Regions from separate parts of the Homo sapiens genome. Here region 1 is linked to region 2. The links come from fine-mapping of genetic effects on gene expression. A gene starts in region 2. The other region holds a variant in brackets. All regions are shown on one strand. Distances are between the middles of the regions. Region 1 overlaps KCNK13 (potassium two pore domain channel subfamily K member 13). Region 2 holds the start of KCNK13 (potassium two pore domain channel subfamily K member 13).

Region 1 (10,609 bases), 24 kb after region 2:
ACATGTAAGCCCAAGCACACACACATGAGGTCCTTCACACATATATGTGGTTCTTTATGTAGTTTTTGCAAATTCATTTTTTACACCTACTGATGGTTCTTCTTTAACAGCTTTATCAATGTATAATTCACATACCATAAAATTCATCTATTTAAGGTATACAATTCTGTGGTTTTTAGCATATTTACAGAGTTTTGCAACCATCATCACCATCAATTTTAGGACATTTCAAGTTCTGAAAAAAGAAACCTCATACCCTTTAGCGTTTGCCCCCTGTTATGGTTTGAATATGGTTTGTCCCCACGATAACTCATGTTGAGGCTTGGTCCCAGTGTGGCAGTGTTGGGAGGTGGCGCCTTGAAGGAATGATGAGGACATTAAGATCCATTAATGTCTTTCTCTCCAGACTGGGTTGGTTCTCTCAGGAATGGATTAGTTCCAGTGAGAGTGGATTGTTATAAAGGGAGGTTGCCTCTCATATTTTGCCTGTTTTCCTTTCCATTTCTCCACCATATTTTGATGCAGTGTGAAGCTCTTGCCAGAAGCCACTAGATTCAGTTGCTCAATCTTGAACTTCCCAGCCTGCAAAACCATGAGCTAAATAAACCTGTTTTCTTTTTCAAAACAGAGTCTCACTTTGTTGCCCGAGCTGGAGTGCAGTGGCATGATCTCAGCTCACTGCAACCTCTGCTTCCTGCGCTTAAGTGATTCTCCTGCCTCAGCCTCCCCAGTAGCTGGGACTATAGGCATATGCCACCACACCCAGCTAATTTTTTTTTTTTTTTTAGTAGAGACAGGGTTTTGTCATGTTGGCCAGGCTGGTCTTGAACTCCTGACCTCAGATGATCTGCCTATGTCGGCCTCCCAAAGTGCTAGGATTACAGGCATGAGCCACCGTGCCTGGCCTCCTCTTTTCTTTATTAATTATCTGGTCTCAGGTATTGTGTTACCTGAGCAACACATAATGAACTAAGACACTATCCCCTCCAGCCTTAGGCAACCAATAATCTACTTTCTATTTCTATAGATCTGCCTATTCTGGACATTTCATATAAATGGAATCATACAACATGTGGGCTTTTGTGACTGACTTCTTTCACTTAGCATGTTTTCAAGTGAGCCAAGTTGTAGCATGTATTAGTACTTCTCTCCTTTTTGTTGCCAGATAATATTCTGCTACATGAATGTACCACATTTTATTTATCAGTTAATCAGTTGATGGACATTTACATTGTTTCCACTTTTTAGCTACTATGAATAATACCATACAATGTCGAATAAGTTTATAAAAACGTATGTCCACAGAACACAAGTTTTCTGTGTGGACATATGTTTTCATTTCTCTTGAGCATGTAGGTTTGGAATTGCTAGGTCATGTAGTAACCCTATTCTTTATCTTTGGACAAACTTCCAAAATGGCTATAACATTGTATATTCCCACCGACAGTGTACAAGGGTTCCAATTTCTCCACACCCTTTCCAACACTTTACTATCTCTCTTTGGATGTGAAATAGTATAATATTGTGGTTTTGATTTGCATTTCTTTAATGACAAATGATACTGAGCATTTTTGTGTGTTTATTGGCCATTTGTATACTATCTTAAAAGAAAGATCTGTTCAGATTCTTTGCCCATCTTTTAATTGGGTTATTTGTCCTTTTATTACTGAGTTATGAAAGTGCTTTATATATTCTAGGTTCAAGTCCATTAACTGATATATGATTTGCAAATATTTCCCCCTTCTGTGGGTGTCTTTTCACTATCTTCTTGATGTTCTTTGAAGCACCAAAGCTTTAAATTTTGATAAAGTCCAATTTATTGGATAGAGTTCTATTTTTCCTTTTGTTGCTTATGCTTTTAGTGTCATATTGTAAGAAACCATTACCTAATCTAAGGTCATGAAGATTTATACTTATGTTTTCTTCTAAGAGTTTTATAGTTTCACTCTTACATTCAGGTTGTTGATCCATTTTGAGTTAATTTTTGTGCATGGTATGAAACATGGGTCTGCTGTGGTTTCAGTGTTTGTTTCCTCCACAACTCACATGGAAATTTAATTGCCATTATAACAATATAAAGAGGTGGGACCTTTAAGAGGTGATTAGGTGATGAGGGCTCTGCCCACTTGGATGGGATTAATTGTGTTATAAAAGGGCATGTTTGGCCTCCTTCTCTCTCTCCTTGCCTTTCCACGATGTGATGTATTCCCTCCTGTGATGACAGCAAGAAGACCCTTTCAAACTGTCAGTGTCTTGATCTTGGACTTTGAAGCCTCAAAATTCTAAGAAGTAAATTTCTGTTCTTTGTAAATTGCCCAGTCTGCGGTATTTTGTTATAACACCACAGAATGGACTAAGACAGGATCCAACTTAATTCTTTTGCATGTGGATATCCAGTTGTTCCAGCATCATTTGTTGAAAAGACTAGTCTTAGCCCCATTTAATTGTTTTAGCACACTTGACAAAAATCACTAGTCTTAGCCCCATTTAATTGTTTTAGCACACTTGACAAAAATCAATTAACCATAAACATGAAATTGACATCTGGACTCTCAATTCTATTCCATTGACCTATCTGTCTGTCCTTATTCTAGTGTCTTGATTACTGTGGCTTTGTAGTAAATTTTGAAATCAGGAAGTGTGAGTCCTCCAATGTTGTTGGTTTTTTTTCCCCCAAGATTGTTTTGGCTATTCTGGGTCCCTTGAACTTCATGTGAATTTTAACATCAGTTTATCAATTACTGCAAAGAAGACTTACATTGAATTAATTTGGGGAATTTTGCCATCTTAACAATATTAAGTGTTCCAATCTATGAACATGGGATGTCTTTCCATTTATTTTGATCCTTTAATTTATTTAAACAATGTTTTATAGTTTTTTGGAGCATAAGTTTTGGACTTTAAAAAAATTTCTTAAGTCATTCATTATTTTAATCCTATTGCAAATGAAATGGTTTTCTTGATTTTATTTTGAATTGTTTATTGCAAGTGTGTAGAAATGGAATTAGTTTTTGCATGTTGGTCTTGTATCCTGTGGCCTTGCTACGCTAATGTATTAACTCTAAAAATTTTCAGTCAGTTCCTTAGGATTTTCTATATACATGAATATGTCACCTGTGTGTCCAGATAGTTTTAGTTCTTTCTTTCCCATCTGGATTTCTTTTATTTCCTTTATTTCATGCTTGACTAGAACTCCCACTGCAATGTCGAATAGAGATGATAAGAGTGGGCCTCTTTATCTTATTCCTGATCTTGAAGGAAAGTTTCAGTCTTTCACTATTGAGTATGAAATTGGTTTTGTAGATGGCCTTTACCAGGTTGAGAAAGATCCCTTCTATTTCTAGTGTGTTGAATGTTTTTATCACAAAGAGCTGTTAGATTTTTGCCAAATTCTTTTTCCACATCTATTGAGATGATCATGTGGTTTTATTTTTTATGCTATTTATATAATGTTTTGCATTGATTTTTGTTTTTTATTATTATTCATTTATTTATTTATTTTGAGATGGAGTTTCACTCTGTCCCCCAGGCTGAAGTGCAGTGGCGTGATCTTGGCTCACTGCAACCTCTGCCTCCCAGGTTCAAGCGATTCTTGTGCCTCAGCTTCTGGAGTAGCTGAGATTACAGGCGTGTGCCACGACGCCCAGCTAATTTTTTGTATTTTTAGTAGAGATGGGGTTTCACCATGTTGGCCAGGCTGGTCTTGAACTCCTGACCTCAAGCAATCCACCCACTTTGGCCTCCCCAAAGTGCTAGGATTACAGGTGTGAGCCACTGTGCCCAGCCTAATTTTCGGATATTAAATCAATCTTGAGATAAGTCCTACTTGATTATGGTGTATAATTTTTTTAATATGTTGCTGCATTTGGTTTGCTAGTATTTTGTTTAGGATTTTTGCATCAGTATTCAAAAGAAATAGGCCGGGCATAGTGGCTTATTCCTGTAATACTAGCACTTTGGGAGGCCGAGGCGAGTGGATCACCTGAGGTCAGGAGTTTGAGGCCAATCTGGCCAACATGGCGAAACCCTGTCTCTACTAAAAATACAAAAATTAGCCGGGCATGGTGGCACATGCCTATACTCCCAGCTACTCAGGAGTCTGAAGCAGGAGAATCATTTGAACCCGGGAGGCGGAGGTTGCAGTGAGCTGAGATCCATGCCATTGCACTCCAGCCTGGGTGACAGAGTGAGACTCTGTCTCAAAAAAAAATATATATATATATTTTATTTATGTATATAAATTTATATATTATATATACTTATATATAATATATATATACTTATATAATTATATATTATATATTATATAAATTATATATATTATATATTATATACTTTATATTATATATTATATTATATATTATATATTATATATTATATAGATATTATATAAATATATAATATATAAATTTATATCTATCTATCTACCTTTTTCCTTTTCTTGTGCCCTTTTTCCTTTTCTTATGCCCTTTGTCTTGTTTTGGTATCAGGATAATACTATAGATCTATAGAATTAGTTGGGGCATGTTCATTCGTAGTTCTTGTATCTTTGTGAGGTTGCCCAGGATACTTAACTATGATATGGATATTCATTAATTTAACCATTCTTCCTATTGTAAGACATAGGTTATTGCTAATTATTTGCTAGCACAACTGCTTTATACACCATATTTTCACTGTAGTATTTAAATTTTAAATATTTTATAGGTACTGCCAAGTTTTGGAGAATTTTTAAATTTAAATATTGTCAGCTAATTTGCAATAATCTTATTCTCACTGCTAACATATACTATATTTTTCCTCTCCTGTGGTACTATACAAAGAGCTCTACATAGATAAACTTTCATCCTATGGGGTAGGACTATTATTTTCCCCCATTCTATAGGTGAGAAAACTGAAGCACAGAGGTTACATAGCTTGCCCAAAGCCACACAGCTAGTAGGTGGTAAAACTTTGTTTCAAACTTTGTTCAGCCATGATTTAAACTGGGAGAAGTGGTGGGTAGCCTCCAAGATAGTCAAAATTCTAGTGAAAACTGAAATAAAACCTATGGCCCCGGTTCAGTATTTCTTTTTGTCATCAGTGGATGTTTTTGTGTTTTATTTGATGTTACTGATGAATATATTTTGCAGGCTATTGCTTTGAAGAAACAGGGCTGCCAGGTTGTATACTAAGGAAGACGTCTGGGGGTCCCATGCTTGGTTTGAATGGTGTCTTTCTTCCCTGCTTATCTCCTTAGAACCACACCCAGCACTCATCCCATATCAAATGTAAACCTCAGTTTGGTTCAGTCAGAATTTATTGAGTTCTTACTATTGGCCCAACCTGACTGCAGGAGTTCTTAAGCCGGGCCCATGAATAGAATTCAGAGCATCTATAAATGTAGATGGTAAAATAATTCCATCTTTATATTTACTGGCATCCAACTAACCCCTGAGGGACTAACCTTGAGCATATCTTCCAATGATGAATGATGAATGTAGGTAACAACCCTGACATAGGATGAGCAGGGCCTGTAGCTTTGGCACCAGTGAAATCACAGATCCATTCCCTCCACCTGATAGTCAGGGCAGATCCCTTATCCTTCACCCTCACCACTACCTTAAAATCATGGTGGTTATTAGCCTTAATTTTATTATTTCATTTTATATATATATACATATATATATACATATATATATATATATATATATATATTTTTTTTTTTTATTGAGATGGGGCCTCACTATGTTGCCCAGGCTGGTCTCAAACTCCTGGGCTGAAGCAATCTGCCTGCCTCAGCCTTTCAAAGTGCTGGGATTACAGGCAAGAGCCACTTGCCCAGGCCATTATTTCGTGGTTTAATAACAAAGCACATTTAATGTGTCGCACATTTATTTCATTGTTTAGTAACTGTGTTTTAATACAGCTGCTTTTGTAATTTTATACATTTTATTTCATTCATTAAAAATAAATTATTCTAAGAAGGGACCAATACACTTCCCCAGACTGCCAAAGGCTCC[G/A]GGTAGCAGAAAACAGGAATTGAGAACCAGACCAAGGTTAGGCTAGTTTTGAATGAAGAGAAAAAGGGAACCTGCCACTGCCTCCATCCCCGCTTCTCATGATAGAGCATTCATCCACTTGTAGTTGTTTGAAAACGGACTTGCAACACTCTCGTTGCTCAATCACTGCGCAGCATAATCTCAGCTCTTTGTGATGATTCAGAAGCCATTTCAGGATGTTGCCAGGTGCTGAGGGTCATCATTGGCAGCATAATTTACCACAGTCCCTTAGAGCAGTGGGGGAAGAAGCAAGCATTTGGAAATGTCCTATTTATAGAGTACCCTTTGTACAGTGTAGGGGACTTTGTTCAGAGTTCCCGCCCTGCTCCCTTGTCTCTGCCTTCTCAGCTAGTGATGATGTCCTTCTGGTGCTTAGCCCACCACCTACCCTGTGGTTTCAGCATGCCATGTATACTTGGCTGTAAATGCTGATTTTGGAATATATAATATTGCTTCTTGGTGATTCAATGCTACTTCTTGCTTAAGTTTATTTATTTATTTATTTTTATTTTTTAATTTTTGAGACAGAGTCTCGCTCTATCACCCAGGCTGGAGTGCAGTGGTGTGATCTCAGCTCACTGCAACCTCCACCTCCTGGGTTTAAGCGGTTCTTACACCTCAGCCTCCCGGGTAACTGGGATTACAGGTGTGTGCCACCATGCCTGGCTAATTTTTGTATTTGTAGTAGAGACAGGGTTTCACCATGTTGCCCAGGCTGGCTTCTTGCTTAAGTTTAAATTAGAAATTGCCACTGGCCTTGGACCAAAGGCAACATGCTTTATTAGGTCCACAGATGTTGATGAGTTGGTAAATGTTTAACAACAAGCTTAAAAAGAAAGAAAGAAAGAAAGAAAGCTCTGATTCATAGCATTTGCCTATTTCTGTGGTGTAAATATTCCCACAATGGCTGGTTTCAAGCCATAAAAGTGAAGTTCCCGAAGGCAGAAGGCAGAATAGAGAAGAGATGTGCACAGTCAGCTCTCAGGCGCCTTTCCCAGCCAGCTCCACCTCACTGCTGTGGACCTCAGAGTGCTTGAGAAAACCTGAATTCACTGTCAACTTTTTAACATCAGATTTCCCAGTCGAAATATAGATTTCTGATTTCTCTTGGGAAAATGGAAAATCTGGCAATGTCAGGCCCACATTCCTCTGTGCCAGCCATTCACTGAAGATGAGCTACAGATGATCCCTTTGGGGAGTGATATGGTTTGGCTCTTACCCCACCCAAATCTCATCTTGAATTGTAACTCCCACAATTCCCACGTGTCATGGGAGGAACCTGATGGGAGGTTATTGAATTATGGGGTTGAGTCTTTCCTGTGCTATTCTCATGATAGAGAATGAGTCTCATGAGATCTGATGGTTTCAGAAACAGGAGTTTCCCTGCATGAGCTCTCTTTGCTTGCCACCATCCATGTAAGACTTGACTTCTCCTCCTTGTCTTCTGCCATGATTGTAAGGCCCCCCAGCCATGTGGAACGTAAGTCCATTAAACCTTTTTTTCTTCCCAGTCTCGGATATGTCTTTATCAGCAGCATGAAAACAGACTAATAGAGTAAATTGATACCAGTAGAGTGGGGCATTGCTGAAAAGATACTTGAAAATGTGGAAACAACCTTGGAACTGGGTAACAGGCAGAGACTGGAACAGTTTGGAGGGCTCAGAAAAAGACAGGAAAATGTGGGAAAGTTTGGAACTTCCTAGAGACTTGTTGAATAGCTTGGACAAAAATGCTGATAGTGATATGAACGATAAGGTTCAGGCTGAGGTGGTCTCAGACAAAGATGAAGAACTTGTTGGGAACTGGAGCAAAGATGACTCTGGTTATGTTCAGCAAAGAGACTCAAGGCATTTTGCCCCTGCCCTAGAGATTTGTGAAACTTTGAACTTGAGAGAGATGATGTAGGGTGTTTGGCAAAAGAAATCTCTAAGCAGCAAGGCATTCAAGAGGTGCTATTGAAGGTGCTGTTAAAGGCATTCAGTTTTATAAGGGAAATAGAGCATAAAGTTTGGAAAATTTGCAGCCTGACAATATGATAGAAAAGAAAATCCCATCTTCCGAGGAGAAATTCAAGCTGGCTGCAGAAATTTGCATAAGTAACGAGGAGCCAAATGTTAATCCCGAAGACAATGGGGAAAATATCTCCAGGGCATGTCAGAGGTTTTCACAGTAGCCCCTCCCATCACAGGCCCGGAGGCCTAGGAAAATAATGGCTTTGTGGGCCAGGCCCAGGGTCCCCGTGCTGTGTGCAGTCTAGGGATTTGGTGTCCTGTGTCCCAGACAATCCAGCCATGACTAAAAGGGGCCAAGGTACAGCTCAGGCTGTGGCTTCAGAGGGTGCAAGCCCCAAGCCTTGGTAGCTTCCGTGTGGTGTTGAGCCTGCAGGTGCACAGAAGTCAAGAATTGAGGTTTGGGAACTTCTGCCTAGATTTCCGAGGATGGTGGAAATGCCTGGATGTCCAGGTGGAAGTTTGCTTGAAGGGGCGGGGCTCTCATGGAGAACCTCTGCTAGGGCAGTGTGGAAGTGTGGGGTTGTAGCCCCAACAAAGAGTCCCTACTGGGGGCCCCTACTGGGGCACCACATAGCAGAGCTGTAAGAAGAAAGCCACTATCCTCCAGACCCCAGAATGGTCAATCCACCGACCGCTTGCACCATGTGCCTGGAAAAGCCAGACAATACCAGCCATGAAAGCAGCCGGGAGGGAGGCTGTGTCCTGCAAAGCCACAGGGGCAGAGCTGCCCAAGACCATGGGAACCCACCTCTTGCATCAGCATGACCTGGATGTGAGACATGGAGTCAAAGGAGATAATTTTGGAGCTCTAAGATTGGACTGCCCTGCTGGATTTCAGACTTGCATGGGGCCTGTAACCCCTTTATTTTGGCCAGTTTCTCCCATTTGGAGTGGGTATACCCAATGCCTGAACCCCCATTGTATTTAGGAAGTAACTAACTTGCTTTTGATTTTACAGGCTTATAGGCAGAAGGGCCTTGCCTTGTCTCCAATGAGATGTTGGACTGTAGACTTTTGAGTTAATGCTGAAATGAGTTAAGATTCTGGGGGACTGTTGGCAAGGCATGATTGGTTTTGAAATGTGAGGACATGATATTTGAGAGGGGCCAGGGCAGAATGATATGGTTTGGCTGTGTCCCCACCCAAATCTCATCTCGAATTGTAACTCTCACAATTCCCACGTGTCATGAGAGGAACCCAGTGGGAGGTAATTGAATCATGGAGGTGGGTTTTCCCATGCTATTCTCGTGATAGTGAATGTGTCTCATGAGATCTGGTGGTTTTAAAAACAGGAGTTTCCCTTCACAAGCTCTCTTTGCCTGCCGCCATCCATGTAAGGCATGACTTGCTCCTCCTTGCCCTCTGCCATGACTGTGAGGCCTTCCCAGCCATGTGGAACTATAAGTCCATTAAACCTCTTTTTTGCCAGTCTCGGGTACCTTTATCAGCAGCATGAAAACAGAATAATACAGGGAGCTCAGTGCTTCTTCTGGTCCCACCTGCCTAGGCTGAGTGTCACCTGCCATTCATCTCTATGTTTGACCTCTTTCCTGTCCCTTGGCTCAAGTGCCGAGGTTCCTCTTGTCTCTGAGATATGTGAACCAAGTGATCTTATCACCTAGATTTTTAATCAGAATCTCAAGAAAGAGTTAGAGGGCCCCACATGATATTATTTTTTTAAATTGCATCCAGTTTGATCATGGAGCAGTCAAGGTTTTCCTGATGGGGTGCATGGAGATTTTATTCCATTCTTGTTGATTTCCCTCTGGGTGTCCCAATCAGTAGGCGCAAGAGCTTTTCCACTTAGGATATTTAATTAATGAGAATCGAACCGGTAAAGAATGAACTCTATGGCTGGCTAAAGGTTTTCCTATGGGAAATTAAGACCCACTAACTGGAAATGGTGAAAAGTGACAAGTTCAGAGGAAACTCAGTACAGTCATTAAAAATGTATCAAGTCCTATACAGTAGCCAGTTGACACAGCACAGTCAAAGAAAAATAGCATCTCTAAGGTCTTGTTGGATACCATCCATGTTGATTTTGGATAATGCCCAAAAGCCTGTTTCTGGGGGAAAGGCTGCTCTTAAACCTGGAATGCAGAACACTGGGCATGCCAAATGCCTCATTATTTATGAGTTCCATGCAGACAGTGATGCATGAAGGGTAAAAGACATGCCAATACCCTCTTCTCGGTGGGGTAGAGTGCTCCTGAAGATGATTTAGGAAGTGAGGTTTGAAACAGAGTCTATGGAGAGAGTCCTGGAGTTACCAGTGCTGGCAGGGGAGAAGGAGAAGACCATCAGAAAAGCAGTGGTAGCTATGTTAAGAATTGCATTATTATGTACTTACCTAAACGTTGGCAAGAATGCTGTTATTTAAGAATAAAATCAATTTCATTTTGGGAAAGAGAACTCCTTTTTTTTTTTTTTTTGAGACAGAGTCTCACTCTGTCCCCCAGGCTGGAGTGCAGCGATCTCAGCTCACTGCAGGCTCTGCCTCCCAGGTTCACGCCATTCTCCTGCCTCAGCCTCCCGAGTAGCTGGGACTACAGGTG
Region 2 (10,431 bases):
TAGCCGTTGCAGACAAGAGGGGGAAAAGATGATAAAGATCAGGAAGAAAAAAGCAAAACTTGTAGATGACATGATTATTTACAAAGAAACTCCTAAAGGAATCAACAAAACATGTACAACTGATGACTAAAGTAGCAAGGTTGAAGAATTCAAGTATTTTTGCAACAATCGTGTATTTTTATGGACTACAGCAAACAATTGAAAAGTAAAATTTTGAAATTCCATTTACAATAACATCAAAAGAATATAAAATACTTTAGAATGAATTTACAAGAGATGTGCAAAATCTCCATATGAAAACTTGGTTAAGAAACCCTAAATAAATAGAGGAATATACCTCTTTCATGAATTGTCAAGATGTTCTTCCCAAAATAGATCCAACACAATCCCAGAAATCAAGATCCCACAGCTTTTTGGAGGAAATTAAGCTGATTCTATGATTTTTTAGTGGAAGTGTAAAAGTTTTATAACATCCAAAGAATCTTGAAAAAGAAGAACAAAGTTAGAGGACTCAATTATAGTCCCACTAAAGACCTACTATAGAGCTATAAGTATGTAAATCCTGTGGTATTAGCATAAGGGTGGGCAAATAATGAACAAATTAAATTCCTGAAACTCAGGCATATTTATCTTTTCAACAAATAGCATTGGAATAACTGGAAATCCACCTGGACAAAATGACCTTTGACTCTTACCTCATACCATAAGGAAACAAACTTAAATGGATCGTAGACCCAAATATAAAAGTGTGGGGAGACAGAAAACCTATGCAACCTTGAAGGAGGTAATGATTTCTCAAAGGGCACCAAACATACAGAAAACATATTTAAGAAAATAAATAGGCAAATCAGAGTTAGAAAATATTTGCAAGATATGTATCTGAGAAAGTACTCGTATCCTGCATATATAAAGGATCTCTATAATTCAGTAACAGAGAAACTAATTTTTTAAGTGGGCAAAATATTTCAACAGAAAATTCACAAGAGAAGGTACACAAGTGGCCAGCAAGCGCATTAGACATCAGGGAAATGCAAATTAAAACCACAGTGAGATATCGCTACATCCACCAGTATTTTTAGACATCAGGGAAATGCAAATTAAAACCACAGTGAGATATTGCTACATCCACCAGTAGTTTTAAAATTAAAATGACTGATACTGCCAAATGTTGACAAAGATACGGAGCATCCAGAACTAGTGTACACTGTCAGTACAGCTGCTTTGGGAAAATGTCGGGCAGTTTCTCATAAAGCAAAATACATACCTACCCTATGACCCAGCAATTCCGCTCCTAGGTCTTTACGTAAGAGATATGAAAACATATGTCTACATAGTTGTACAAGAATGTTCCTAACAGTTTTATTTATGATGACCAAAATTTTCTAACAGTTCTCCTTTCTATCAATAGGAGGAGAATGAATAAACAAACTATGGTATACCCAAACAATGAAAAACTAGCAATAAAGAGGAAGGAATTACTAAGACATATAACATGGGTAAATCTCAAAAACATAATGTTTTCCACCAAAGAGTACATACCGGCATGATTCCATTTATATGGAGATTTAGAACAAAAAAACAGTTCTATAAAAGCGAAAGTAATCGATGGTAGAAAAATTCTGAACAGTGGTTTTCTCTGGAGGAATGTGGGTAGGGAGTTACAGGGAAGGGACTTAGGGGGACCCTGTTGGTGATGTTTGGCTGGTAGGTTGGATAGGTGATTTGCAGAGGTGTACCCATTTGTCAGAACTCACCTAATGATACACTTAAGATTTGTGCATTTCATTGTATGTAAATTTTATCCGAAAAGGAAAAAAATTCTGCAAGTAAATATTGAACCCTACGTAGTGATATGCAGGCAGAAGTACTGGGGATGAGGGCGGAAGTGTACCAAGCTCTGCAACTTACTCTGAAATGCATCCAAACAAGATGGGTTGATGGATGGACAGAGGGACGGGTAGATATCTAATAAATCAAGTATAGTAACATGTTAATTGTAGAATCTAGGTGGTGGGTATACGGGTGTTCACTGTAAAATTCAACTTTTTAGAATGTTTGAAATTTTTCATAATAAAATGGATTTAAAAGGTAATTGCAGTACTCACCCTGGGTGTATACACATGCACCCATTCTCGCGATGCCCCTAAAGCTCTTGCCCCTCAGAAGGCTAGATGAAAGAGGGGCATTGGGGAGTGAGTAACAGAGCCGAGAGGACTGCTAACAGCACCAGGGTTTCTGATGAAAATGCACTCGCCAGAGCTGTGTTTCTTTATTCGAAATCACACGGTTTTACTCAACAGGGCTCCTAGCCCTTCTGTCTCTGCTCCTGGTGCGTAAGGGCGGTGTGTGGGGCTCTGCGCCTGAAACCGCTCTCTCGGAAGGTGGGAAGATGCCCACGTATCCATTCCTCTCCGCGTACAGATTCGCTCCCACACGCCCGGGCGGGTGATTCCGGAGGGCCGCGCGGGGCTGTGTGCGCGGGCGGGGGCGGGATGTGTCTGGAGGGGGCAGAGCGCCCTCTCCCGGCCCCGGAGGGCCCACGCGGACCGGCTGAGCGTCCCACCAGCCGGTTCTGCATCCACTACCCAGATCTGCGCGCCCTGGTGGGAGCACCGCAGCCCCGGGTCGGCCCTTCGAACGCCGAGCGTCTACCCGCGGAGACCAGCGCAGGAGGCGGGCCCGCGCGCAAGGAGGCGGGCGACAGGGTGGAGTCGCCGCAGCTGGCAGCCGCACGGCTCTACCTGTTGCAGCGTCGGAGCGCGCCCGCCTGAGAAGGCAGAGCGCGGTGCGGACCTGTGCTCCGCGCGCCGGCTGGCAGGGCAGGGCCGCGGCTGCCAGGAGGCCCGGGAACAGTCCCGACGGAGCGGCGCGGAGAGGGCGCTCCCCGGAAGGTGAGATCTGAGCGCGGCAGCGGCGCCAGCGCCCGCTACAAGGCGGGGTCTCGGGGAGGGGGCCCCGGCGGTTTGCTGGAGAGCCTTGCTACTGTTCTGCATGAGGTGGGGGATGCCTTCTGCGCGGACCCCGCGTCCAGGCAAAACTCTGGAACGCACTAGGCAGCCAAGCCCGGGGGGAAGAGATGGAACGCTCCAAGGTCAAGGTCTCCTGGCCGCGGAGCCCTTCCAGCCCCCAGTGTTTGGCCTCCTCTCCGGAAGCGGGGCTGGCTCGCGGTGCGCGCTTGGTCCGGGCGGAGCCTACTAGTAGGCGCAGAGGACGCCCCCGCGCAGGATCCAGAGACCAAGGGCGCTCTGGCATGGTCAAGGCGAGGGAGGCTGCCCGGGGGAGAAGCCCCTAACTTCCTTTGCTCCCTGTTCCAACCTCCCTTTCTGGTCTCCTCTCTCCAGCCCGTCCGCCCAACGGATGCGCAGCGTTGGGGCCCGGCCGGAGGTCGGAGCCCTCGGACGCCGCAGCCCTCGGACGCCGCTCAGCACAGCCCCTCTCTCCGTGCGCCCGCCCTGGACCCCCTCCATCCCTAAGCCCCGGCAGCCGATTCGGAGACTCGGGAGGCCACAGGCTCAGCGCGACACCACGACCACAACTAGGAGGCACCATCGTCGATCTACCTGGGGAGGCACCTACAAAGCCAGCAGACTGACACCCGTGTCCTAGCCGTCGGCGGCCTGCGAAGCGATAGTCAAAGGAACCAGGACCCAGGACCCCGGCGCTCTGCTTACCCGCAGACCTCCGGACCGCGCCCCCCCCCCGCCGCCCCGCCCCGCCCCGCCCCGCCCCGCGACCGTCTCTTTGCGGGAAACTCGAGTTGGCTCGAGCTTGCCCTGAAGACGCGCCACGCCCCCTCCCCTATCTGAGCCGGACAGGGAGCCGGGGTGGAAACTGCGCCCGCATCCCAGCGCCAAGCAGACGTGAACTCTGCGCCCGTTCCCCGGGACCTTCAGCGTTAAGGAGAACTCCGAGGAGAGCAGGGGGAGTGGAGGGGAACGGCGGCGACAAAGCGGATTTGAAACTAGGAGTCAAGGAGGACGTGGGGAGCTGGCGCCACAGGAGCTACCGAGGCGGCGGCCGGGGGAGCCTCGCGGCCTGCGGGAGAGCCCGGCGGTCATGGGCGAGCCGGCGGTGGGGCGCCCGGGAGCTGGCTGAGCGCCGGGGCCCTTATTTCCCGGGGGTGTGGGCGAGACTCCGCCGACGCCCGGTGCCGTGGGCCTGGGGGCTGCCCCCGGGGGCCCGGCCATGGCTGGCCGGGGTTTCAGCTGGGGCCCGGGCCACCTGAACGAGGACAACGCGCGCTTTCTGCTGCTGGCCGCGCTCATCGTGCTCTACCTGCTGGGCGGCGCCGCCGTCTTCTCCGCGCTGGAGCTGGCGCACGAGCGCCAGGCCAAGCAGCGCTGGGAGGAGCGCCTGGCCAACTTCAGCCGCGGCCACAACCTGAGCCGCGACGAGCTGCGCGGCTTCCTCCGCCACTACGAGGAGGCCACTCGGGCCGGCATCCGCGTGGACAACGTCCGCCCGCGCTGGGACTTCACCGGCGCCTTCTACTTCGTGGGCACCGTCGTTTCCACCATAGGTAAGTGTGCTGGCCGGACTCGCTGACAACCTCCGGGCGGCCTCCACTTCCTCCGGGGGGCAGGACCGACCCTCTCATCCTTTCATTCATCCATCTGGGCGCCCAGCCAGACTCCACTGACATGAGCTGTCGCCTGATCAACAGGTGGTATTGCCTCCCCGCTGCTCTAATGTGGTCCAGGCACCGGCAGCTTCAGCGTCACCTGGCAGCTTGTTAGAAATGCAGTCTCAGTCCCCTCTGCAGACCTGCCGAGTCAGAATCTGCATGTTAACAAAGTCCCCAAAGGATTGGAATGATCCTTAAATTGGAGACGCTCTGCTCTGGGAGATTTTCAGTCTAATGAAGGAGACACGGCTTGAGTTCATGGGGAAGAAGGCTTTTACAGATAGGGACAGGAAACTAAACATTTACTGAGTCAGTCAGAGGGGAAGTGCAGATTTTAAAAGATTCTGCCCTCGACTTCACACTTACCGAGAAAAAATCAGAACAGCAGACTGAAAGTGAGGAAGCAAAAGTGCCAATGACGGTTCAAAAGATGGAAAATTTTCCACCAGGAAGAACCAGGGAAGTGACCTTTGGGCTGAATCAATTCGTGTTAGGCATAACTTGGGTTTGGGAACTGAAAGCGCGGTTGCACTCTAGAGTAGGAGAGAATCGCACTCAGGGGCCCCATGAGCTGGTTGGAGTGGTGGAAGGAAGACTAGGAAGGTCTGCTGGCTAATGGGATGGAGGCGGGGGTAGGACCTTCACTGACAGACTGAGGAGCTGGAATTTACCTAGAGGCACCTGGGAGCCATTGAGAATTTTTTAGCAAAGATGTAGCACAGCTACAATCAGCTGTGTTTATTTCCCAGCAGAAGGAAAATGATTTGGGGGAGTCTGCGCCACACCCCTAAAGATTGTTCATCCTTGAAGAATAATCAAGTGATTAATGGGGGTTAGGGAAGATGCTGTAGAAATAAATTCTGAGGGGGGCAAAAAGAGACCTGGAGCAGGGGAGGGAGGTTGGAAGAGTTAGACGGAGAGGAAGTGGCCTCCAAGCTGCAAAAAAGGCTGGCAGTTGCAAACAGCCCAGGGTGCATGTGCTGAGCGCTCTGTAGCTACTGCCCCTGTGCACTCTAGAAGAGCTCGCTGGTGAGGTGGGGCGACAAGTTGAGCCTCCTTGAGGCTCCCACACATGGCTGTGCTACATAGACATTCTGCCAGGAGAAGCAGCACAAAAGACAAAAGAGATTGGCTTCAGGTCAGATTCATCATGAAAGACTTCCCAGGGCTAGTCCAGGAATCCAGGGCTTCAGCTGATGCACAGGAGGCGAGGCAGAGGACCAGTATGATTAGGGACACACCGGCTGTATCTGAAGTGCCTGGCTCCCAGCCCCCATCCCATCCCAGATGGTGCGGCCCATCAGCAGGCCATGATGGCACCACCATAACTGGGTATCAGGCAGGAAACCTTGCAGCAGACCAGAATGGGCCCAAGATTGGTGAAGGAGGAATAACACCCCCATGGTTCTCCCCCTGAGCCCACACTATCTGCTGGACTCTTAGCCGTGTTCCACAAGCCCCTCCTCACATCACCTCCCACGTCCCAGAAGACAGTTCCAGAATCTCCACATAGGCAAGACTTGGGATGAACAAACTGATTAGGAGGTGTCACTTTGGAAGTGACCTTGACTCTACTGTGTTTGCATAGCAAGTACAGGATTTTTTTAGATTGAATGGTAACTTAGGGTGGTTTTGATGGGAGATTTGATGGCTGAATCTTTCCCACCACCATGAAAAACCATCTCTTGGTGCTCCCAGTGGGCACAGAGGCAGGAAGGAGCAGAGTGTGTGTGTGGACAGGTGCATCCATGTAGCAGGAACTGAGAGTGGCATGGGTAGGTGGCCATATAGGAACATGGGCTTTGGGGATACGAATATGACAATGTGGCATGGAGGAGTGGAAAGAAACCTGGACAAAGAGTCTGGAGTGGGAGCTTTTCATCCTGCCTCTGTATCTTGGGCAAGCCTCTTAACTATTCCGAGCCCCATCCTTTTCTCATCTGAGGCATCTACAGAGTGCCCACCTTGGTATCTGGCACATCAGCTATTTGGTGAATATTAGTCCTGCCCCCTGCTCCCTCCGTCTGCGTAAGCCTGCCCCTGTCACAGGGTTCTTGTGAGGGACAATGAGCTCTTGTAAGTGCGTGCGTGTTAAAAGGTAAAAAACATGATGTCAGTGTGGGCTGATTTTTATTTCTCATTTGTAACATTTCCTTTTAAATTGTTTCACTAATTGTTGTAATAACAGCACTGGCTAACCTTTATCAGGCCCGTATTAGGCACATACTGTATGATTATTATGTGAATGTGCAATGCAGCTCATTGCTGTGTGACATTCACACTTCATTTCAGCCAACACAACTCCATGAGGTAGGCATAACACTCCCCCGTTATAGATGAAAAAGCTGAAGGTTCAGGTTTTTTGTAAAATAAAGTATAAAGAAGAAAAAAATCAAGTTATATGCAGTAATATCATCCAAATTAACCACTGTTCATGTTTTGGTCCATTTTCTTCTGGTCTCCTTTTTCCTCTGCGTATACTTATATACATATGCATTTTTAAAAATTAGAATTATATTCTATAAACCACTCATATCTTGCATTTTTATTGTAACATTACATGATGGTGTTTTTCCTCTAAAAATTAATTCCACCATGCTTTATTCTGCAAAGACTTTGAGGTAGCAGACAAAGTATACAGGAAAATAATCATAAAATACAAATAAAACTTCAGAACCAGGGAAAAGAAGAACAGAAATACGGGATGCAAGTGGAGCTACGAAGTTGCTAGAGAGGAACTTTGTCTTAGTTTGGGTTCCCTTAGAAGCAGAGCTTGAGCCAAGAATTTGAGTGTAAGCAGTTTGTTGGGAGGAGCAAGGGATACAGGTCGGTGCAAGGGAAAGTGAATCGAGGAAGGAAAGTAAGTTAATCCAGGATACGCTATTAAGGCAGGTGCCACAGTGGGCAACTGGTACCTAATCCCAAATGGAAGCTTGGAAGCAAAGCAAAGCTCTTGACCCAGATATCCCATGCAAGAAAGCTGGGATGTTTACACAACCACACCTGTCAGGAATTGGTTAAAAAGCTGTCTGGGGAGGATGAGAAAGGAGCACGGGGATGTAATTTCCAGGTACTTCTGGCCTTATTTTCTTTCATGGACAGCCCAAGGGTAGCCCTCACGCAGAGATAGGCTCTGCTGTTGGAAATGAGGCCAGTGTGCCAGGAAATGATAACACGATCCCAAGGAATGGTGGGGAATCCCATGGAAGGCAGAGAACCAGCAAGCTTCAGATTTGGTTTCAGGCTTCATGGCAGACAGAGTCATGACCCATACTAGAATTCTTAATATCAGAAACGAGGAAACATAAACCTTTCCAGTACCTAATTCTCCTTTTTTGAGACAGAGTCTTGCCCTGTCACCTAGGCTTGAGTGCAGTGGCACAATCTTGGCTCACTGCAACCCCTGCCTCCCGGGTTCAAGCAGTTCTCCTGCCTCAGCTTCCCAAGTAGCTGGGATTACAGGTGTGCACCACCAGGCCCAGCTAATTTTTGTATTTTTTTTTTTTTTTTTAGTGGAGATGGGGTTTTGACATGTTGGCCAGGCTGGTCTGAAACTCTTGACCTCAAGTGATCCTCCTGTCTCAGCCTCCCAAAGTGCTGGGATTACAGGTGTGACCCACTTTTTATTTTTTTATTTTTTGAGGGAGTCTCAATTTGCCACCCAGGATGGAGTGCAGTGGCATGAGCTTGGTTCACTGCAACGTCCGTGCCTCCCAGGTGCAAGCAATTCTCCTGCCTTGGCCTCCCAAGTAGCTGGGATTACAGGTGCAAGCCACCACACCCAGCTAATTTTTGTATTTTTAGTAGAGAGAGGGCTACACCATGTTGATCAGGCTGGTCTTGAAATCCTGGTCTCAAGTGATCCGCCCACCTCAGCCTCCCAAAGTGCTGAGATTACAGGTGTGAGCCACTGCACCTGGCCCCAGTACCTAATTCTCAAAAGTATTTTCTCTTTGGGATTATATGTAGGAGACATTGTGTAGGACAACAGATGATATTCACAAACAATATTTTCCTGGAAAATGCTATTGAGGATTTCATGTAGCTGTGATCTAATTGAGACTTTTGACTTAAAAGTCAGAGCTTAGAGTGAAAAACAGTTTGCCAGTTTCTCTACAGGTTAAACATAGAACTACTTTATGACCCAGCAATTCCATTTCTAGGTATATATCCAAAAAAAAATCAAAAGTAGGGATTCAAACAGATATTTGTACGCCAGTGTTCATAGCAGCATTATTCACAATATCCAAACAACCCAAGTGCCCATCAACGGATGAATGAATTAACCAAATGTGGGCTACATACAATGGAATATGATTCAGCCAAAAAAAAAGGAATGAAATTGGCCAAGCACGGTGGCTCATGCCTGTAATCCCAACACTTTGGGAGGCCAAGGCAGGTGGATCACGAGGTCAGGAGTTCGAGACCAGCCTGGCCAATATGGTGAAACCCTGTCTCTACTAAAAATAAACAAATTAGCTGGGTGTGGTGGCCTGTGCCTGTAGTCCCAGCTACTTGGGAGGCTGAGGCAGGAGAATTGCTGGAACCTGGGAGGCAGAGGTTGCAGTGAGCTGAGATCGCGCCAATGCACTCCAGCCTGGGTGACAGAGTGAGACCATCTCAAGAAAAAAACGAAAAGGAATGAAATTTTGATATATGCTGTAACATAGATGGACCTTGAAAATAATTATGCTTAGTAAAATAAGCCAGACACAGAAGGACAAATATCATATGATTCCATTTATATGAGGTACTTAGAATAGGCAAATTCATAGAGATAAATTAAAATACAGGTTACCAGGGGCTGAGGGACGGCCAGAAGTGGGAGTTATTGTTTAATGGGTACTTTCAGTTTGGGATACTGAAAACATTTTGGGTATAGATAGTGGTGATGGTTGTACAACATTGCAATTATATTTAATGCTATTGAATTGTACACTTTTAAATGGTTAAAATGATAAATATGTTAAGTATATTTGACTGCAGTAAAGAAAACCTCAGGGCAGAGTATTAAAACACAATTCAGAAATGTTGATTCTGAAAAAGGCTGGAGATCAGACGTGAAACAGGGATAAACTTAAAGTACTCAGAAAAGTAGAATGACAGTATGTCTTGTAAATGATCTTCTGTGAATATCTTTTCTCTGAAACTAGCTTTTGTTAGGAGCTTGTCCCCGTGTTTGCTGGTATATCTGTAGGTAGCTTCTGTCCCCAAAGGGTTTGAGGTACTCTGCATTTGACAGAGTCGGGGAAGGCTTAGGTTTTGCTGCAGTAACAAGCTACTCCCAAAATCTCAGTAGCTTAATGTAATAAAAGTGTACTTCTTACCCACACCAAGTTCACTGTGGGTGCTGGTGATGCTGCCGGGCGGTTGTCTCTGTGTTGCCCCAGCGCTTCAGGCCTCTTCTGTCTCTTGGCTCCTCTTCCTCAGCACATGCTTCCAGGATTGCTCTAGAAGGGGAAGAAAGGGCTGAAGAGTCAAGCACCAATGATTAAATGGCCACCACCACCTGCAAGTAGCACAGGTCCCCTCCACTCCCACATCCTTGGCCAAATCAAGTCACAGAACCACCACTCCCTACTTCAAAGGGTCAGGGAAACGTTATCCCATCCCCTTTGTGGCAAGTTGCAGAAGAAATGTTTCTTCCAGGCTAAAAAAGCACGTGTTGGGCCCAGCGGGGTGGCTCATGCCTGTAATCTCAGCACTTTGGGAGGGGGAGGTGGGTGGATTGCTTGAGGCCAGGAGTTCGAAACCAGCCTGGCCAACATGGCGAAACCCCATCTCTACAAAAAAAATAGAAAAAATTA

What was found.
Region 1: its variant is fine-mapped to the expression of KCNK13 in blood mononuclear cells (TOPMed, PIP above 0.99). The same link has a PIP of 0.9 or more in monocytes, monocytes after LPS, monocytes after R848, tibial nerve and whole blood.

What each region holds. Positions count from the first base shown.
Region 1 is chr14:90,081,459-90,092,067 of GRCh38, forward strand. All of the region lies in intron 1 of KCNK13 (potassium two pore domain channel subfamily K member 13), which reads left to right. Among named protein-coding and RNA genes, the nearest start is that of KCNK13, 25 kb to the left of the region's middle. RefSeq lists an enhancer at 7,964-8,464. The variant G/A (reference allele first, on the strand shown) is at 6,003.
Region 2 is chr14:90,058,021-90,068,451 of GRCh38, forward strand. It overlaps KCNK13 (potassium two pore domain channel subfamily K member 13), which reads left to right and starts at 3,974. Exons shown (of 2, transcript NM_022054.4): 1 at 3,974-4,519. The coding sequence starts at 4,186. It overlaps LOC124903406, which reads left to right. Exons shown (of 3, transcript XM_047432048.1): 2 at 2,382-2,891; 3 at 3,342-3,713. The coding sequence ends at 3,606. RefSeq lists a silencer at 2,277-2,666 and enhancers at 2,915-3,416, 3,417-3,916.